Regions from separate parts of the Homo sapiens genome. Here all the other regions are linked to region 2. The links come from fine-mapping of genetic effects on gene expression. A gene starts in region 2. Each other region holds a variant in brackets. All regions are shown on one strand. Distances are from middle to middle.

Region 1 (6,234 bases), 91 kb before region 2:
GCCAAGACTAGAGTTGAGGAAGAGAGGCTTCTGATAGAGTTGTCCGAGCAGGCCTCTCAGAGGTGATGACCTGAAGGATGAGACTGGAAGACTGAGAAGGACTTAGCCTTGCAAATGGATGCGTGACAAAGCATTCTAGGAAGGGGACCGGCACATACTAAGGCACTGAGGTGGAAAATTACAGGGTGGGGTAGGGAAACAGAAAGGGGGGCTGGGGGCTCAGTGCATCTGGAGCCTAGTGAGGAGGGCATGAGATGAGGCAAGAGTGGCTGGCAGGGGCCTGACCACGGAGGGCTGTATAGGCCATGGAAAGAGTGAGGGGAAGCCACTGAAGGGCATTTGATTGTTTTGAAATTGCGGTAAATATATTCAACATAAAATTTACCATTTTAACTATTTATTAAGTGAATTGTTCAGTAGCATTAAGTACATTTACACTGTTGTGAACATACTACCATCCACCTCTAGAAATTTTCTTCTTCCCAAACTGAAACTCTGTACTCGTTAACTAAGAATTCCCCATTCCCAATTCCCCTAGTCCCTGAAAGCTTTTAAATGAGGAGATATGTAATCCGACTGGCATTCTGAGATGATTACAAATGAAATAAAATGAAACGCAAATGGCAAATGAATCACTGCAAGGCACAGGTAGGAGCAGGAAGAGCAGTAAACAAGATGGTGGTTTGGACAAAGAGTAGAGGTGAAGAGAAATGGGCAGACTTGAGAAGCAATATTGGCAGAACTCAGTGTGGCCATTCTCTGTTGGTGTCGGTGGGGGTGGTGGTAGTGGGAGGTACTCACAGCTGACCTGGGAGCCCAGCTTATGCTCCCAGACGGCATGCAGTTGCTGGTACTCCTGCTGTGCAAGCTCCAGGCGCTGCTGCTTCACCTGGTAGATCTCCTTTTGTGCACTCAGAGCCTCCTGGGCCACCACCAGGTAATCCTTCAGCATATGTTCCTGCTCCCGCCGCCATTGTACTCGAGGATCCTCAATCTGAGTGGTTTCTGGAACAGACCCCAGAGATTCTAGGTCAGCATCTCACAAATATCTGTTGGGCTGGTGGCCTGTGGTATCCACTAGCAGAAAACAAAAAGCAAAATGCATAGACAAATCACAATAAATGTAAGTGGGGCAAACTCATTTACTAAATGACAGTGATTCTCCATTTGGAGTAGTCAAACAAATAATAAGCCAGGGGGTTGGGTGTGGTGGCTCACGCCTGTAATCCCAGCACATTGGGAGGCTGAGGCAGGTGGATCACTTGAGGTCAAGGAGCTTGAGACCAGCCTGGCCAACATGGTAAAACTCCGTCTCTACTAAAAATACAAAAATTAGCCAGTATGGTGGCAGGCACCTGTAATCCCAGCTACTTGGGAGGCTAAGGCAGGGGAATTGCTTGAACCCAGGAGGGGGAGGTTGCAGCAAGCTGAGATCGTGCCACTGCACTCCAGCCTGGATGACATAATGAGACTCTGTCTGAAAAAAAAAAAAAAAAAAAAAAGAATAAACCAGGATCAATTTCCAAACCCAATGTCAATCTCTGAGAACGGCCTGAATAAGGATCAGGTTTGAGTACTAATCTAGACAGAGAGGCTCAAGGACATTAGAGATGCTCAAGGTAATCTCCTTTGGTGAAGACTAAAGGAAAGAAAAATAACTAATGTCTCAGAGGATGTGGAGAAATAGGTACCCTATAGCCAGCTGGAAATGTGAATTAGAACAGCCTTACTAGAAGACTATCTGACAATGCAAATTAAGAGCCTTAAAATGTTAATACCCTTTGACCAATAATTCTCCCTATAGTAATTCATTATAAAAAGTAATTTAAATTCAGTCATATATTTGTACAAAACCATAATAATAATATATTATGAAGTAGCAAGCACATGTCATTGATTCTATGATAAGTGCTGTTCTAAGAACTTTACATATGTTCACTTCTTAAATCCTTACACGAACCTTATAGATTCTATTACTATCCCCATTATACCAATGAGAAAACTGAGACGTAGAGAGGTTAAGTAACTTGCTCAAAGTCACACAGAAATAAGTGTTCAAATATGTATGCTATATTCACAGAATGCACTATTATAAAGATAACACCTTTGAAGAAAAATTAATAACATGGAAAGGTACTTATAATATGCAGGTCATAAAACCGAATAAATAACTATCTATCAAAATCAATATGTACATTCTCAAAAAGATGAGAAAATAGGAAAATATCAACAACCAACTAGGTGGCAGGATATTTTAGGATATTTTATTTTTTACAAAATTATGTGTACAAAAAACATATACACTAATGATCTGAAAAAAAAGCAGCTGACGAGATATGGAAGAGGTTAAAATAATGTCAAAGAATCAATGCCCATGGACTATTAACTCCTCAGTCACCCCCAGTTGTTGGGTGGTGTTAGGGGTGATCAACAAGCCAGAAATTGTAAAATCAGGGCAATGTGGTGAATCCAGCCTCCAGATAGGTATTGCTTCTGAATTGATTACTGGTATGTAAAAAATGGAGAGATATCTTCATTAAAATCCTGTTTTATGGCTTTTCTTGATCATTCAGAAGTTCTGGCCACCTTGGGTTCACAACTGGTCAGAAATCCCAGCACCCCATCTGTCAAAACCTGGTCTGCTTCATTCATTTATGTCATATGCCTAGCCCGGGGAACACTGGAGTTTATGCCTCCCAATCTAGGCCCTTTAGCTCTCATTCCTCCTAAACAGGTCCAATGAGCATCTCCAGTGAAATAAAGATCAAAGAAGCAGCAGGGCCAAGTTCTCATTCCTGCCAATAATCGCTGTGTTACAACAGAAAGGCTGTTTAACGTCTCTGAATCTACTTTTGTATCTCTTAAAGGGGGTAATGAACCCTGCATCACTACT[G/T]CCCAGGAAACAGGAAACTAAAGCACTTGTGCCAGGTAAAGGAAACAAATGATAGTGAAAGTAAAACCCAAACTATTGCCTAGGATCAGTTTTCATTGTTGTTGTTTTCTTTTTCTTTTTTCTTTTCTTTTTTTTTTTTTGTTTTTGAGATGGAGTCTTGCTCTGTCTCCCAGGCTGGAGTGCAGTGGCGTGATCTTGGCTCACTGCAACCTCTGCCTCCTGGGTTCCAGTAATTATCCCTGCCTCAGCCTCCCAAGTAGCTGGGATTACAGGCGCCTGCCACTACGCCCAGCTAATTTTTGTATTTTTAGTAGAGACAGGGTTTTACCATGTTAACCAGGCTAGTCTTGAACTCCTGACCTCAGGTGACCTACCTGCCTCGGCCTCCCAAAGTGGTGGGATTACAGGCGTGAGGCACTGTGCCCAGCCTAGGACCAATTTTTGAATCGTCTGTGAATAGCAATTCTTCAAGCTTTTCCTCCTCCTTTTTCTGAGAAAAAAAGTAAGGTCTGAAGACTGCTTACAGTGGCTACAAAAAACTGCCCCTCATGAGGAAAGCTTTCCATCCCTTCAAACCAAACAAGAGGCAGGAACAAATGCAAAAATAATACAAAGACAAAACAAAAAAACAAGGCGGAGATGGAATTTGTAAAACTGGGCTACAGAACAGCTGCTGTGGGTTCCCATCTCCCATCAGCAGCTGTGGATTCCCTTGGCGTTCAGGAATCGTGGGTCCCCCTGAGGGATCTGCCCTACACCTCCAGCTGGCACAGCCCACAGAAAAAAGCAGCTCAGCCTATCTTGAGCAGGCTGGCAATGTTTCTTAAAGTTTGCAACTTTTAGAAGATCTGATTTTTCACCACAAAATAATGAAAAGTACAAAAAAGAAAAATCCCACAATTCCACCATGACAAGTTTGTGAAATAAGAGAGTTTCCATCTCTCCAATCCCATTGCCCAGAGGTAACTGTTGTTGAGTCTCACACAGATACTGCCTTCTGATTATACATGAATTTTTGTTTACACATACACGCCTATATATACAAGGTTACTTTAATGCAACATGGACCATGCCATTTATATTGGTCTGTGACTTGTTTTCATCTCCAAATGATATAGCATGCTCATTTTTGCCTGTAGGTGCACCATCTTTTAAACACCTGTACAGTGTTCCACGCTATGGTATTTGGGTTTATTTAACCAGACCTCGATGGGAAATATTTGAATTGTTTTCAGTTCTTTTGCTACTACATTCAATGCTGCAGTAAGGGTTCTTAAAAACATATGTCTATGAATTTGTGCTATTAATTCTGTGGGATAGGTTTCTTAAAGAGAAACTACTAGATCAGAGGGTACACACACTTACAATTTTAATAGATATTACCAAATTACCTTCCAAAGGCAGGTAATTTCTGTTCTCAAAAACAGCATACATGAGTGCCTCCCCCCACATTCTCAGTGAAATTGCTTTTTTTTTTTTCTTTTTAAAAGTCAGTGCCTCATCCAGTGATTCTGGGTCTTTGCTGCATATTAGAATTAGCAGAGAAGCTTCAAAAAAAAAAAAAAAGCCTGAACCCCACCCCACCCCCCGAAGAACACTTAAATTAGAATTTCCAGGAGTGGGGCTCAGGTATTGACAGTTTTTAAAGCTTCTCTGGGTGACTCTGGTGCAGATATAGCTGAGAGCCCCTGGTTGAACATTAGAATCACCCGGGAGAATTTTTTAAAAATTTCAATCCTACTCCAGATCAATCAAATCCCAATCTCTGGGAGTGAGAATAAAGCAATGATGATTTACAAAGCTCCCCAAATAATTCCAGTGTGCCACCCAAGGTGAGAACCGGTGTTTAAGAGATGACAAACACATGGGCCGATTGGTCACTGAGGCTGGCAGGTGCGATGCGGGCTCCAGGTGGAATCGCCTGCCCAGGTGCTGGTTGAAATGCTGGGCCCGTGTCCAGTTCCCTAAGCGACACCTAGGTGGACCCTCCCACAGTGTTCTGGATTTCATCTGGAACGGGCACCTTCCCTTTGGCCTTAGACCTCAGCACTGCTCTGTAAAACTATAAAGGTATATGAGACCCTTACCTGAAGGTCTGGCCAAGCCAGGTGGCTTGGCGACCATTTTTTGTGGCTCATGGTCTCTTTTGTAAACCAATAAGAATAGATGGGTGCACGAACAGACAAAAACAACACACAAACTCACACCAGAACTGGTTCTCAAACTGGTTGCACACTGGAATCACCCGAGAGATTTCCACTGAATTGATCTACAGTGTGAAGTGGGCATCAATTTGTTACATTTCTGAGAGTATTTCCTTTACCCCAATGATCCCCTGGACGCTCCCAGGCAATTTCCTCTACTCACCCCCTCTCCCAGTTTGCCTGTTTTAGAACTTCACATGCATGGACTCACACAGTTATTTGCTCTTAGGGCCTTGGTTCTTTCACTAAGCAGAAGGTTTTTGAGACTCATTCCTATTGCTGTATCTGTTGTACATTTCTTATTATTGCTGAATAATATTCTATTGTATGAATACATCACATTGTCTTTGTGATAAATTGTTAGTTTGCTTCCAGTTAGGGATTATTATGATGAATACTCTAAGTCTTCGTGTGGGCATGTTTTCACTTCTCTTGGACAAAAATACCAGGGGTAGAATTGCTGGATTATACTTCGCAAGTATATGTCGAATTTCATAAGAAACTGGCAAACTTTTCCAAACTGGTTGTACCATTTTACATTCTCACCAGCAGTGTATCAGAATTCTAGTTCTTCCACATCCTTGCTAGCAGTTGGTATTGTTATTTTTTTCCTCATTTTAGTCATTATAGTGGGTATGTAATGATACCTCGTTGGAATTTTATTTTTTTATTTTTTTGAGATGGGGGTCTCACTATGCTGTCCAGGCTGGTCTTCAACTCCTGGGCTAAAGTGATCCTCCAGCCTCAGGCTCCCAAGTAGCTGGGACTACTTGGCATGTACCACCATGCCCCAGCTGATTCTGTATTTTTATTTTTGTAGAGATGAGGTCTCACTGTGTTGCCCTGTGCTGCCTTATGTTTTGCTATGGCTGGTCGTGAACTCCCGGGCTCAAGTGACCCTCCACCTCAGCACCCTGAAGTGCTGGGATTACAGGCATGAGCGACTGTGCCAGCTGCTTCTTACTGTTAAGTTGTAGGACGTCTTTACATACTTGGAATATGGTTCTTTGTTAGAGATATGTATTGCAATATTGTCTCCTTATCTGTGGCTTGTCTTTTCAGTTTCTTAATAATGTCTTTTGAGGAACAAAGATTTTAATTTGATGAAACCAAATTTATTAATTTTTCTTTTCTGGT
Region 2 (6,234 bases):
GCCCTTGAAGACCATCTAACCAACCCACTTCTCAAGCACTCAAACCTCAGAGAGGTCAAGTGATTTGCCCAAGGCCACACAGACAGAACTAAAAGGCAAAAATGGGGTATGCCGGAGGGAAATTCCAGAAAACCACAAGTGGCTATCCTCCAATTAGCACTTTTCCAAAACATACAAAGCTGGACCACAATAGTGACCCCCAGAGTTGACATGAGACCCCCTCAGGACCCCAAGTTCAGGGGCCCAATACCACCCCAGTCCAGGTGGGATGACAAGGAGGTACAGAGATGAAGTTTATAAACCAGTGACCCAAGGCCAAGCGTGGTGGCTCACGCCTGTAATCCTAGCACTTTGGGAGGCTGAGGTGGGCGGATTGCCTGAGCTCAGGAGTTCAAGACTAGCCTGGGCAACACAGTGAAACCCCATCTCTACTAAAATACAAAAAATTGGCTGGATGTGGTGGCGTGCACCTGTAGTCCCAGCTACTCGGGAGGTTGAGGCAGGAGAATCGCTTGAACCCAGGAGGCAGACTTGCAGTGAGCCAAGATCGCACCACTGGACTCCAGCCTGGGCGACAGAGCGAGACTCTGTCTCCAAAAAACAAAAACAAATAAACAAAAAAACCAAAAGCAAACAAAAAAACCAATGACACAAGATGAAGAAGGTGAGCTGCTCACCTAAGTGCCACTATGTTTCTGCCGCCTCTCCATGGCTTGCCAATCTGCTTAAAAACAAAGGCTGGGCAGGTGAGGTGCTGTGGCCTTAGGCTGGCCACAGTACCTAGCTAAAATATACTAACCCTGGTTTTTTGTTTTTTTTGTTTGCCTATCTTTTTTGTTTCCCCTGTATGACAATAGATATAACTAGTTTCCCATTTGTGAAAATGGTACACATATTTTTAAAGTGAGTTGATCTAAAGTCAAGGAGTAAGTAAGCAATAGCACAGGTGGATATAGCAAAAAAAAATCATGGAGGTGGTCCATGTAACACTAAAATTTGGGAGATTGTGCTCCAGCCAATCAGTTCTTCATAGAAGCTACTTACTTACCCTTTTCCAAGGGTAAAGAATTACTGTTGAGAGGGGCCTCCTATTGCTGTATTAGAAGTCCCCAGATGCATGATTATCAGTGTTGGCAGGGGCGGTCCTTTCCCTCCAACAGGACGTCCACCTGCTAACAGCACACAGGCCTCCGTAAACTACAGGGACCTAAATTGGGGCAGGTCACATATGTTTGAACTTGTGTCTGTTCTGAGAAAAGGACAAGAGAAAAGGTGCTGCCAAGTTCACCAACACAGTAGCAGAGCTGGCAACTGACCCGAGTAAGGGTGGGGAAGCAGTGTGTCAGGGTGACAAGTTTGCAGGTTAGAACTTCAGAGCTGGTGAAGAACTGGTACGCAGAATGGCAGAAAAATCAAAATACTTGAGCAAATCACACCTCTGGGCTTCAAATTTTCTCTTATGTTTCAAATGGGAGTTGGGCGCTGATGTACGTCCCTTCCAAGTTTTAAGCATCCCAATATTCCCTTCCAAGCAAACTTTTTAAATTCAGGGAAATGGTGGGCTCCCCCATCTGACAAACAGGGAAACTGAGGCTCAGAGGTTGAAGCAGCTTGCCTAAGAGATGCTCTCTAGCACTAAATATTTACCTTCCAGATTACATTCATGAGACATTCAGCATGGTGCTGAGTGTAGAGGAGGCATCCAGGAAGCGCTGAATGAACGAATGAATGAATGAATGAAAGTAAGTGCTCCCAGAAACTACCGAGAATCTCAACTCTCATTTTCTTTCCGCTTATATTCTTTTTTTGACCCACATCTTGCTACATACACTTCTGGGACACCTCCACCCCCACCACACAAGATGAAGAGTCCAAGAAATTCACCTTGGTTGCTTTACAGGGACCTGACCCCCAAGGTCACAGACAAGGTTTAAAGTCCGCATTCCCCAAGACACTCTGCCCACAGACCGTGTCAACAACATCGTGGTCCGGGGACTCTAGGACATACATGGAGAGGGTGAATGTATGTGTGTGTGTGCAGCATGTGAGCAAAGAAATGCCAAACAACCAGGAGAAAGTCTGGAGAGGTAAGAGCCACACCGAGCTATCTCAGGCTCCATCTGCCTCTGCACATTATCTCAACCTACAGCGGCCTGGTACCCACCAAGGTCAGGTCCCGCTGGTGCAGGGCTGAGGAGCCTCGCCGCCCCCTTCCCCGATCAGGGAAGAAAGAGAGGAGAAAGAGGCGAGGGGCAAGGCTTTCCGGGAGGCCTCTCACCTCCATCTCCATCCTAACAGCTTCCAAGTTGCTGCCAGATTCCTGGATAACCAGTCTCCCTCATCTGCCCTCCCCCGCTTCTTCACTTCCTCCCCACCCTCGGGTTCCAGGGCCCCCTGGCTGCCCCTGTGCTGTTCTCAGCAGCTTCCAAGGCACCTGTCAAAAAGCACACCTCAGGTTGCCTTCCTCTGCGCCGAGTGCCCTCTCTCCAGTGGTCTCCCACGGAATCCTGGGGTCTTGACCACCCCCTCTAACCGGACACTTCCCCATCCCCATCCGCCCACCCCCCACGCTGGGTGGAAGCCTCCCCGGGAAGACCCGGCTTCACCCGGCTAGGTCGCTCCCCCAACCCCCGCCCCCGCCCGACCTCTCTTCCTAAAGGGGGCGGGCGGGGCTAGAGCTTAAGGTCAAAACTCCGGGCAGGTGCCGGCTGGGGCCTAAGTCCTCCAACTGGGGATGGCGGTGGGGCAGCCTGGGCCAGCTCCCCGGCAGGCGCCTCCTCTCGGTGGCCCACTGAGGCGGGAGCAGCGCTCCAGAAGGTTGGGGGGAGCAGGGGGTGGCGAACTGAAGAGAGCTCAAGAGGCACGCAGAGCTCCCCTGCCCCCTCCCAGTCCCGGCCGGCGGCTCCAGGGGCAGGTGGGGGCCCAGGCGGGGGTGTGGGGGCACGGAGGAGGGTTCCAGGGTCCTACCTGTCCCGCGGGTCGATCCAGCTGGTGGTGCGGTTCGTGTGGTCTATGTAGTAGACCTTGCCGTCGAAGTCGCGCGCCTCCTCCCAGCCCTCCGGCAGGGGCAGCTCCGGCCGGGGCATCTTCCCAAGCGCTGCCGGCGCTCCCCCATGCAGCTCCCGGCCGCAGCGGGGGCTCAGCGGCTCCAGCCGGCCGCTCTTAGCCCGGGCGGCCGCCGAGGCACCATGATCCGGGGGGTGGCGCCCGCAGATGGGGGGCCCTAGTAGGGGCCGGCCGGGGTGGCGCCGCTGTCCATGCGGCCCTGCAGCCCCGACCCGGCGCCGCCCGCTCCTCCCGCCGCCGGCCTCTCACGCTGCCATGTGCGTCCGCAGCGGCGCGGTGCGAGCCCGGGTGCGCGCCCAGCCGGCCGGGCAGAGCGAGCCGAGCGCCGCCGCCGCCGCCGTCTGCCCTCCTCCGCCGCGCGGCGCGCTGCGCCCTCCACGCCGCCGCTGCCGCTGCCGCCTCCCTCCTCCCTGCAGCCGGGTGCCGTCCCTCCTCTCCGCTCCACCGCTCTGAGCTCGCCGGGTTTGTGACTTCTGCCTCCGCCAGGTGCGGCTCGGGCGGTGCAGGTAACCGCGCTGCCCCGGAAACGGGAGGCGGAGCGCCGGGCGCCTGGGTTCCCGGGTCCCCTCCCCGCGCGCAGCGCCTCGAGGGCGGGTCCTAGGGCCCGAGACGCGCCCCCTCGTGGGACAGTCCCAGCCGCCGGCCACCCTTACGCTGCCCCTGCCAGGGGAAGGAGAGACCGCCCCTCACCTGCGTCCCAGACCTAGGGGGCTGGGCCAAAAACCGCTCTGCCTGTACTTAAAACGCTCCTGTCTCTCTCCACCCGGAGTAGCCAGGCTCTCGGCACAGGTGGCCCCAAATCTTAAAAACTCCCTGCTTTTCTGTGGTGTAGAATCAGGAGTCAGGCAAGAAGTGGTTAAATGGAAACATTCTTGCGAATTGGGAAACATAAGTTTTCCAGGATCTCTGGTCCCTTCCCCCAACACAGGCACCATCTGTCTCCTTCTATTCAACTCTCCCTACGACGTTTCGCCCACCCTCCACCCTTCCCCACCATTTGGAAATGTAGCTGGCTCCCCTCAGGGTCCCTAAAATTAGGAGCGCTGTGGATCCGCTTTCCTGGGAGGACTTCCAGAGGGTGTCAGGGAAAACACTTTGTAAAAGTAATAGTAATGCCATTGTTATTGTTAGCTAAATTGAGGACTTACTTGTGACAGGCTGTGGCTAGCAGCTTCACAGGCTTTCTTTCCTGTGATACTTTGAGGTAGGTGTGTTATGGATTTGGGAGAAGTGGGGCTATGAAAAAGAAGAAAGTAAGCAAAGCAAAATTCCATCTTGAAAAATGTTCAAGAGAATAAAACAATCAGAGACACAATGTTTCTTGAGAAATTAAAAATGTAGAATTAGTGGGTGCGGTGGCTCACGCCTGTAATCCCAGCACTTTGGGAGGGTGAGGCAGACAGATTACCTGAGGTCAGGATTTCAGACCAGCCTGGCCAACATAGTGAACCCCATCTCTACTAAAAAATAATAATAATAAATTAGCTGGGCGTGGTGGTGCACGCCCGTAGTCCCAGCTACTCGGGAGGCTGAGGCATGAGAATCACTTCAACCTGGGAGGTGGAGGTTGCAGTGAGCCAAGATCGCACCACTGCACTCCAGCCTGGGCAACAAAGCGAGACTCTGTCTCAAATAAATAAATAAATAAATTTAAAATGTAGCATTAAATACAAAAAGCAAGCTAGCATGATTGAGTGAATGATCAACTGGCTGTTCACTTCCCCATCTCCTCTTACATCTGTGTACTGAGTGGGAATTTAACCCTTTTTTGCCCTCGGCATATGGCAGGAAGCTGGACTGGTCGAATGAAGCCCAGTTGGGTGTCTTCTCTTGCCTGAGCCCCACGGTCTTCCAGAAGAACCAGCACCCTGTGCTGTATGGACCAGGGTGTTGCTGAGCCAGAGAGGGAATCATGTTTGTGGTCTCATCTCCTCTTGACAGAAAAGACCCACCAGAGTGAGCCTCGCCTCCAAATGCCTTCTTCATAGTTAATTCCTTCCCTGAGGCCAGGCCTCGGGGCTCAGTGCTTGGCCCTCCTTCATTCCATAAATACCAGGCACCAGAGTCCAGGGACACCAGCCTCAGACTGGCCCTCAACACCCAAAAGTTGGAATTCCCCATTCCTTTATGGGGGAATTCCCACAGCCCTCTACACTTCCTCTGTTTGGGTCAAGCCTTTACTACATAAAAACCCACTATTGATTAGAGCAGTAGCCCCAAAGCAAAGCCAACCTGGTGCTAGGTTCTTTGAATACATGATCTCAATCTTCATAACAACCCTCTGGCATAGGAAAGTCTATTTATTATACCCATTTTACAGATGAGGCTCCAAGATGCTTTGTTGTTGGCCTGGGATACAGAGCTCATAAGACAGACTAGGTCTGACTCTAGTGCAGTGTTCTCAGTTATTAACCTATACTTTCTTTTTTTCTTTTTTTGAGATGGAGTCTCCCCCCATCCCCCAGGCTGGAGTGCAGTGGCATGATCTCGGCTCACTACAACCTCTGCCTCCCAGATTCAAGCAATTCTCCTGCCTCAGCTTCCAGAGTAGCTGGGATTACAGGCCTGCGCCACCACGCCCAGCTAATTTTTGTATTTTTCAGTAGAGCTGGAGTTTCACCATATTGGCCAGGCTGGTCTCGAACTCCTGACCTCAGGTGATCCGCCCACCTCAGCCTCCCAAAGTGCTGGGCTTACAGACATGAGCCACCTTGCCTGGCTGACTTTCTTTCTTTCTTTCTTTTTATTTTTGAGACGGAGTCTCGCTCTGTCACCCAGATTGGAGACTTTCTTTCTTTTTTAAATCACTCTGCAGCCTCAGAACTTCCCCATGGTTGGGATGTGGAACATGACTGATACTGACAAATGTTCATCTCTGTTGATGTTTGCTTCATAGTTTTTTGGTTGAGAAGCAAGAGCTCTAGAATCAGGCTGTTTGGGTCCCAAGCCCACCCGGTTTTCTAGCTGTGTGACCTTGGGCAGCTTGCTTCACTGAAGTCTCAGTCTTTGATTTGAAAAAAAATCACATAACAATATGGACTCCTTTGGGCTTGTGGTTAGGGCAAAGCAGGAGGAGAAATGTGAGGGCTTGGCACTCAGCAGCACGCCTTCATCTCAGGGGCTGTGGTGCGGTGCATTCGGAGCACCGTGCCTGGCAGCAGACACACC
Region 3 (6,234 bases), 72 kb before region 2:
AGAATCGCTTGAACCTGGGAGGCGGAGGCTGCAGTGAGCTGAGATCACACCACTGCACTCCAGAGCAAGATTCCATCTCAAAAAAAAAAAAAAAAAAAAAAAAAGTGTTTCAAAGTCATTAATACAAATGATTTACTGAGCTTGCTGGGTGTGAGGATGGAGATGGGGTTAGGAGGACGGGACTGAAACCCCGAAAATGTGTCACTATCTGGAAAACCATTAACTCCACTGATTGTTCCAGCCTTACACGTTGAGATGTCAGAGCCAAATACATTTATTCGCTCCAAGCATCAGTAATGTGACAGACATGTGGATACCCTACCAGGACACAATGCTGATTCCACTTGCAGTGAACACAGACACTGTGCCCAAGAGAAATAAAGCAGAGGGAGGCAAGAGGACCCAAAGCTAGAAGGAGAGGGCAAAGGAGAGAGAAACACTTTGGGTTTGATATTCTCATTCCCCTTTGATGCGATCACAGGGGAAATGCCAGAGGGCTGACTGACTGATATCCTGACTCCCAGAGCTCTTCCATGGGAAACAAGGAAGTGCCTATGGAAGGCTATGCAACTTACAAGAAATCTGGACAGCAAGATTCTCTCCGGAACAAATGCCAAGAGGGAGATGAATTATTCAGTGTGTAGAGATGTGTCATTCAGGATGAAGAGATGTGTTTTTGGCTGCACAAAGATTTAAACAGACACACTCACACATACATACATGCACACACTCACTCTTCCTGGCAGTTAAGGAGAGGAATTGTCCATTTAAACCAGCCACCCCCCGTCCCCCAGGAACTGTGGGTGCTCCACTGGCCTGAAATGTTTCACCTTGGGCAAGTGCTAAGGATGCAACCTGGGAAGAAATGTCCACTTTCAGATGTGGCCAGGACTTGGGGGCCTGCCTGGAACTCCCAGCCCCCACCCTCGGGTGAAGCAATTCACCACCATCCAGCCTGGTTCAGTCGGTCCCTGCTTCCAGCCTCCACAACTCGGGCTGCCGAAAACCCCAATTGTGAAATCAAATGACCCAGATGCTGGAGGGGCAAGAAGGGAGGGTGCCAGACAAGAACGAGTTCTGCCTCTTCTTAATTACAAATCTCTAAAGGAGCACAAACATTCCTGAATGTTTCTCAACAGGCCCTCCTGGAAAAACGGCCAGATGTGTCGCTGTGGAGACAGGTAGGTTCTGCCAGGAGCACCCTACAAACAGCACACAGGCACACCTGTCGGGGAGAGCCACCCCGGGGGCTGGAAGCCTCCCTTACCCTCCTCTCAGGGGCAACCACCAGTGGGTAACTGGTAGTTACTTTCCTACGGGCTGTGAGGACATGAGACCACGGTGGGCATTCGGCATTCTGACAATGTGCCTTTTCTAAGGAGGCAGCTCAGAGGAGGAGAGGAAAGCCTTCTGCCAAGTTTAATACTGGGTGGTGATTCTCTCGGGACTGAAGAATGCATACCCTATCTTTCATGTTCCTAGTGTTTCCCAAGCAAGTCCCAGCTTCCCACAGTAACCTCTTTATTACCGTCCAGCAGGATGCTGGCCTGCTCTCTCTGAGGGCTGGCTGGGCGGGATCACTTTCTAAAGGGCCCTCCAGACTCCAAGCCAAGAACTGTCCAAACTTTCAGCCGAACCTCTCCTCCCCAGCCCAGGCACAATGGCCAGGCTGGTTCTTCCCGCCCTGGGCTGTTTCACACGCATAGTTCCCATAGCTAAGGTTGCACAATTCCTGATAATGCTCCTTCACCTGGGGCTGCTGCAGAACACCATTTCTAAGCAGTCCCTTCACCTTTAGCTCCGGGGAGGCCAGAATGAACAGGAAGAAAGGCAACGTTTGAAGTCCTTCTTCCTTTAATTCAGTTTGGTTCAGACTCTTTTACTCATTGTCTAACAAATCTGGGCATGATAAAAATAACCATCTCTCAAGTTTGTTAGGAGAGCTGAGCACATGACACACAGCAGAGCCTTCGTTAACACCAGCTACAGAGGAAAGAGACAGATAGGGCCCTGCCCTTACAGTCTAGAGGGCGAGATGCACCCCAGCCAGAAGCAAATCAAGAGGGCCATTTCAGAGAGATCCATGCTATTCAGGTGAAGTGGAGGCGGAGGTCAGCTTTGGCGGCTCTGGGGCCTGGGTATGCACTTTGGATTATTCCTCTGACCACTGCCCTTGTGTTGAGCTGGAGGGTGACCCAGAGACACTCTCTGCCTCACCCTCCACTCTCATCCTTCCACCCTCATTTCAATCAATCCACCAAGCAACAAGCATTTATCAAGTGAGTATGGCACTCCAGGCCCATGCTAGGCACTACGAGGGCTCAGACGCTTGAAGAAGCCATGTTTCTGCTTCCAGGGGCAGAGGGTCTGGCCGGGGAACAAGACTCACACTCCAAACAGGCAGGGAGTCATCCCCACAACATTCCATGGGAGTGTATGTGGCTGTAACGCTACCCGCGGCCTGAGCCACAGGTAATTAGAGGATGCAGGGATATTTAATAAGGTGCTACGTCAGCAGTATAGACGCGAAAGGCCAACGGGCCATGGGCAGGGAGAGAATGCAGCAATGGGGTGTAGTCAGGGAGGGCTGGGGAGGGGAGGAGGAAAGAGCTGTGGTCAGCTCCATGGTTAAGGAGGAGGCAGGGTAGATGTTACCCACAAAGGCTCAGGAATGGGATGCGAGGCTGAAACCCAGGCTCCACCTCTTCCAGAACTGTAGGTGGGTTATGTAACCTGCTTGAGAGGAGTTTTCTTCTCTGTGAAACTTACACAGGAAGGCCCACTCTCATAAGGGTGTTGTGGGGATTAAATGAGATAACCTATACAGTATCTAGTGCCGGGACTGGCACAAGACAAGCCCTTGATAAATGTGGGTTGCAAACATAATCAGAGAGTTCTGCGCGTTGTGAAGAATCACATCACCCTTTATCTCAAATCCTTAACACGTGAGCTATCATCACCACCATCACCACACCCACCATTATCAGTCTTCACCCTAAGAGATACACGGTGGTGGTTAAAACTCACAAGTCTGGAGTCAGCCATCTGGGTCCCAATGCAGGCACTGTCACTCATTAGCTCTGTCCCCTTGGGCATGAACTCTAACCTGTGTGGCTTTGTTTCCTCATCCATAAGATGGGGGTGCTCAAAGTCACCGCTGCGTTAAAATGGGCTGTGCTGACCACATGGCATTCAGGGTTCAATCTACATTGGCTGTTAGGATGAGTTAGGTTTTATACCCCGATTTTCATGATGGGGAAACTGAAGCAAAATAATTGTCCTGGCTTGCACAGCTAATAAACCTTGCACTGTATTCTATCACCTCCCTTCCTGGAGGAGCTGGGACTGCTTAAACCATCTTTTTTTTTTTTTTTTTTTTTTTGAGACAGAGTCT[G/C]GCTCTGTCACCCAGGCTGGAGTACAGTGGCGTGATCTAAGCTCACTGCAATCTCTACCTCCCAGGGTTCAAGTGATTTTCCTGCCTCAGCCTCCTGAGTAGCTGGGACTACAGGTGCCCGCCACCATGCCGGGCTAATTTTTGTACTTTTAGTAGAGGCGGGATTTCCCCATGTTTGTCAGTCTGGTCTCAAACTCCTGACCTCAAGTGATCCTCCTGCCTCGGCCTCCCAAAATTCTGGGATTACAGGTGTGAGCCACCACACCTGGCTTCCTCTCTCTTTTTAGAAAGTTAAATGGGAGAAGGTAGGAGACAGTAGCTGAATTGGATTTGGTTCTCAAAATCTGCTCTCTGAAGGAGGAGGCATTTATACCTGGAATTCCCAAGTTCTTCTTCTCGTAAACACTTCCCTTCCTCTTGTTCTCTACCCTCCGAACACCTGTCTCAAAATTCTGGCTTTTCCACCCTTAGATCTCCTTGTTTCCCTACTCTGTTTGGGCTGGCTTACCCAGAAGTTTTCTTGGCCTAGTTATTCCCATCCTAAAATTCTTTTATAGAAAAAAGAAGAGGAGGGAGGGCTGGAGGGGAGATTCCAGACGGTTCCTCCACCCCAAACCCTCCCTACCTTCAGACTAGGCCCCCACAAACCAGTGGCTCACCTCCCCACTGCCAAATCTTGGATTCTGTCTTCCCTCTGCCCTGCTGGGTTGGTGAGATCACACACCTGTGCCCTTTGGGTCCATCCCCTTCCTTCACCTCCATCTTGAGTCTCTATGCTTATCTGTTCCCACTCACTGACATGGGGTGAATCCAGGCTGCTAATCCCCTCTGTGTGCTGCCTGTTGGGTTTAAGATTTCAGTTCTGAGAACCAAATCATGGATTAGAGTAGGTAAAGCCAACGGACAACCTGAGGGCCAAATTCAGCCTGAAGATATGTTTGTTGATCTACTACAGTGCTATATTTTAAAAACGGACTTAGCACACCTTTGGGGACAGGCACTGTCTGGATGCACTTTGTCCCCATTGCTTTCTAATGTGTCACTCCTGCCTCTTGGTTAAGAGCAGAGGGCTCTGGAGCCAGACTCACTGGCTTTGAATCCAGGCTCTGTCATTTTCTAGCTGTGTGACCTTGGACAAGATATGTAAACTCTATGTGGCTCAGTTGTCACATTTGCAAAACAGGAAAAATAAGAACACATATACTGAGCACTCACTATGCACCAGCAACTGTTCCAAGCAGTTAATGTATTTATATATTTACTCAGCTGGCCTTCACAACAGCCCTTTCAGGCAGGTACCATTCAGACCTGCCCCACAGTGCTCCTTGAAGCTTACATGAGATAATGCATGAAACAGCACATGAGTACACAGTGAGTGCTTGATAAATGTGAGTGATTCGTTTTTCATTTATTTATTTATTTATCTTTTGAGATGGAGTTTCACTCTTGTTGCCCAGGCTGGAGAGCATTGGCACGGTCTAGGCTCACTGCAACCTCTGCCTCCCGGGTTCAAGCGATTCTCCTGCCTCAGCCTCCCAAGTAGCTGGGACCACAGGCGCCTGCCACCATGCCCGGCTAATTTTTTCTATTTTTAGTAGAGATGGGGTTTCACCATGTTGGCCAGGCTGGTCTCAAACTCCTGACCTCATGTGATCCACCTACTTCAGCCTCCCAAAGTGCTGGGATTACAGGCGTGAGCCACCGCACCCAGTGATTTATTTTTCACACTGCTGCCCAAATGAGGCCCCCAACGTAGAGAATGTTAAAATTAAAAGAAACCCAACAAAACAACTCCCTTTCTTTACCAATGAGGAAACTGAGGGACAGAGATAAAAGACTTGCCTGGAGCCACCCAAGGACCCAGGGGACCTGGGGACCAACTCCAGCCCTGCATCACATAATGCCAGGAGATCAAATCAGCTTGGTGCTGGGCTTGGCTCCATTTGAAATTCAATAAGCATCTGAACAGCCTCCAAGAAATAGGTATTGATAGCATTTTCCCAGGCTAACTAACCCTATTATACCGAATGAGACTGATCATTGGGTAGGAACCAAGATGGAGAACTATGAAGCTCCCATTCATGGAGAGACGAGGTTGGGAGGTGGGCTCTTCATTTTTCTCATTACCTACTTGGAAGGTAATTTCCTAAAAGCCCCACACCACAGTAGAATGAAGACCCTGGAATATCTTTTTGCTCCTCACCCTGCTCAACCCCAGCTTCATCCTCATTCCTGAATTATGAGTTAGGCTATGGAAGCTCTGTGCCCTAAAGAAAAAGCCAACAGAACCAGAGAGGACTCCCAGTTCCATCCTTCCTAGCTGTGTAATCTCAGTCCATTCCTTCCCCCAGGTCTGAGCCTCAGTTTTCCTGCAGGTATAGAGCAGACAAGAAAACCTGCTTCCCAGGTTCTTGCATTCATTCATGCACGGACAAGACTCAACACAGCACCTGGCACACAACCCCAGGCAGGCCTGCAGCCCTACTCCTTTCTGTATTTAGGACTCTGGGGACACTCAACTCCCAGCCTTATTCCTTCCAGCCTCATGAGCTGGGTTCCCAAGGGCTCTTCCCAGGTGCTGGGCTGTCTAGAAGCCTCATCAGCAGTAACTGCAGAGGCAGCAGCTCACCCTGTCCTGGAATTTGGCCATTCCAGAATCTTCTGCTCCTTGAGCTCTGACCCTTACCACACAGCTTGAGGAGCTGGTCCTTCTAGAAATGGAATTGACCGTGAAGACTTTTCTGAGATCCTGTCTGACTTGGGGCCCCTCCCAAGACTGCATGGTTTAGACAGAGCACTGGAAGAAGAATGATGAGATCTGGGTTTGAAGCCTGACGATG

Alleles and levels. Positions count from the first base shown, and alleles are read on the strand shown. Sizes are in standard deviations (SD) of each study's normalised expression. Not every link is listed here.
For the expression in skin of the gene that starts at base 3,594 in region 2, G is the high allele of the variant in region 3 and C is the other (small effect, 0.27 SD a copy in TwinsUK).

The links. PIP is the estimated chance that this variant, and not a neighbour inherited with it, causes the effect.
Region 1: its variant is the best candidate, but not a certain one, in a credible set for the expression of WWC1 in T cells (TOPMed, PIP 0.53).
Region 3: its variant is the best candidate, but not a certain one, in a credible set for the expression of WWC1 in skin (TwinsUK, PIP 0.82).

The regions. Positions count from the first base shown.
Region 1 is chr5:168,379,982-168,386,215 of GRCh38, reverse strand. WWC1 (WW and C2 domain containing 1) reads right to left here. Exons shown (of 23, transcript NM_015238.3): 3 at 802-1,005. Among named protein-coding and RNA genes, the nearest start is that of WWC1, 91 kb to the right of the region's middle. The variant G/T (reference allele first, on the strand shown) is at 2,894.
Region 2 is chr5:168,289,005-168,295,238 of GRCh38, reverse strand. WWC1 (WW and C2 domain containing 1) reads right to left here and starts at 3,594. Exons shown (of 23, transcript NM_015238.3): 1 at 2,968-3,594. The coding sequence starts at 3,086. RefSeq lists silencers at 2,782-3,201, 3,302-3,821 and an enhancer at 4,966-5,045.
Region 3 is chr5:168,360,673-168,366,906 of GRCh38, reverse strand. The region is part of intron 1 of WWC1 (WW and C2 domain containing 1); the gene reads right to left. Among named protein-coding and RNA genes, the nearest start is that of WWC1, 72 kb to the right of the region's middle. RefSeq lists an enhancer at 1,255-1,788. The variant G/C (reference allele first, on the strand shown) is at 3,395.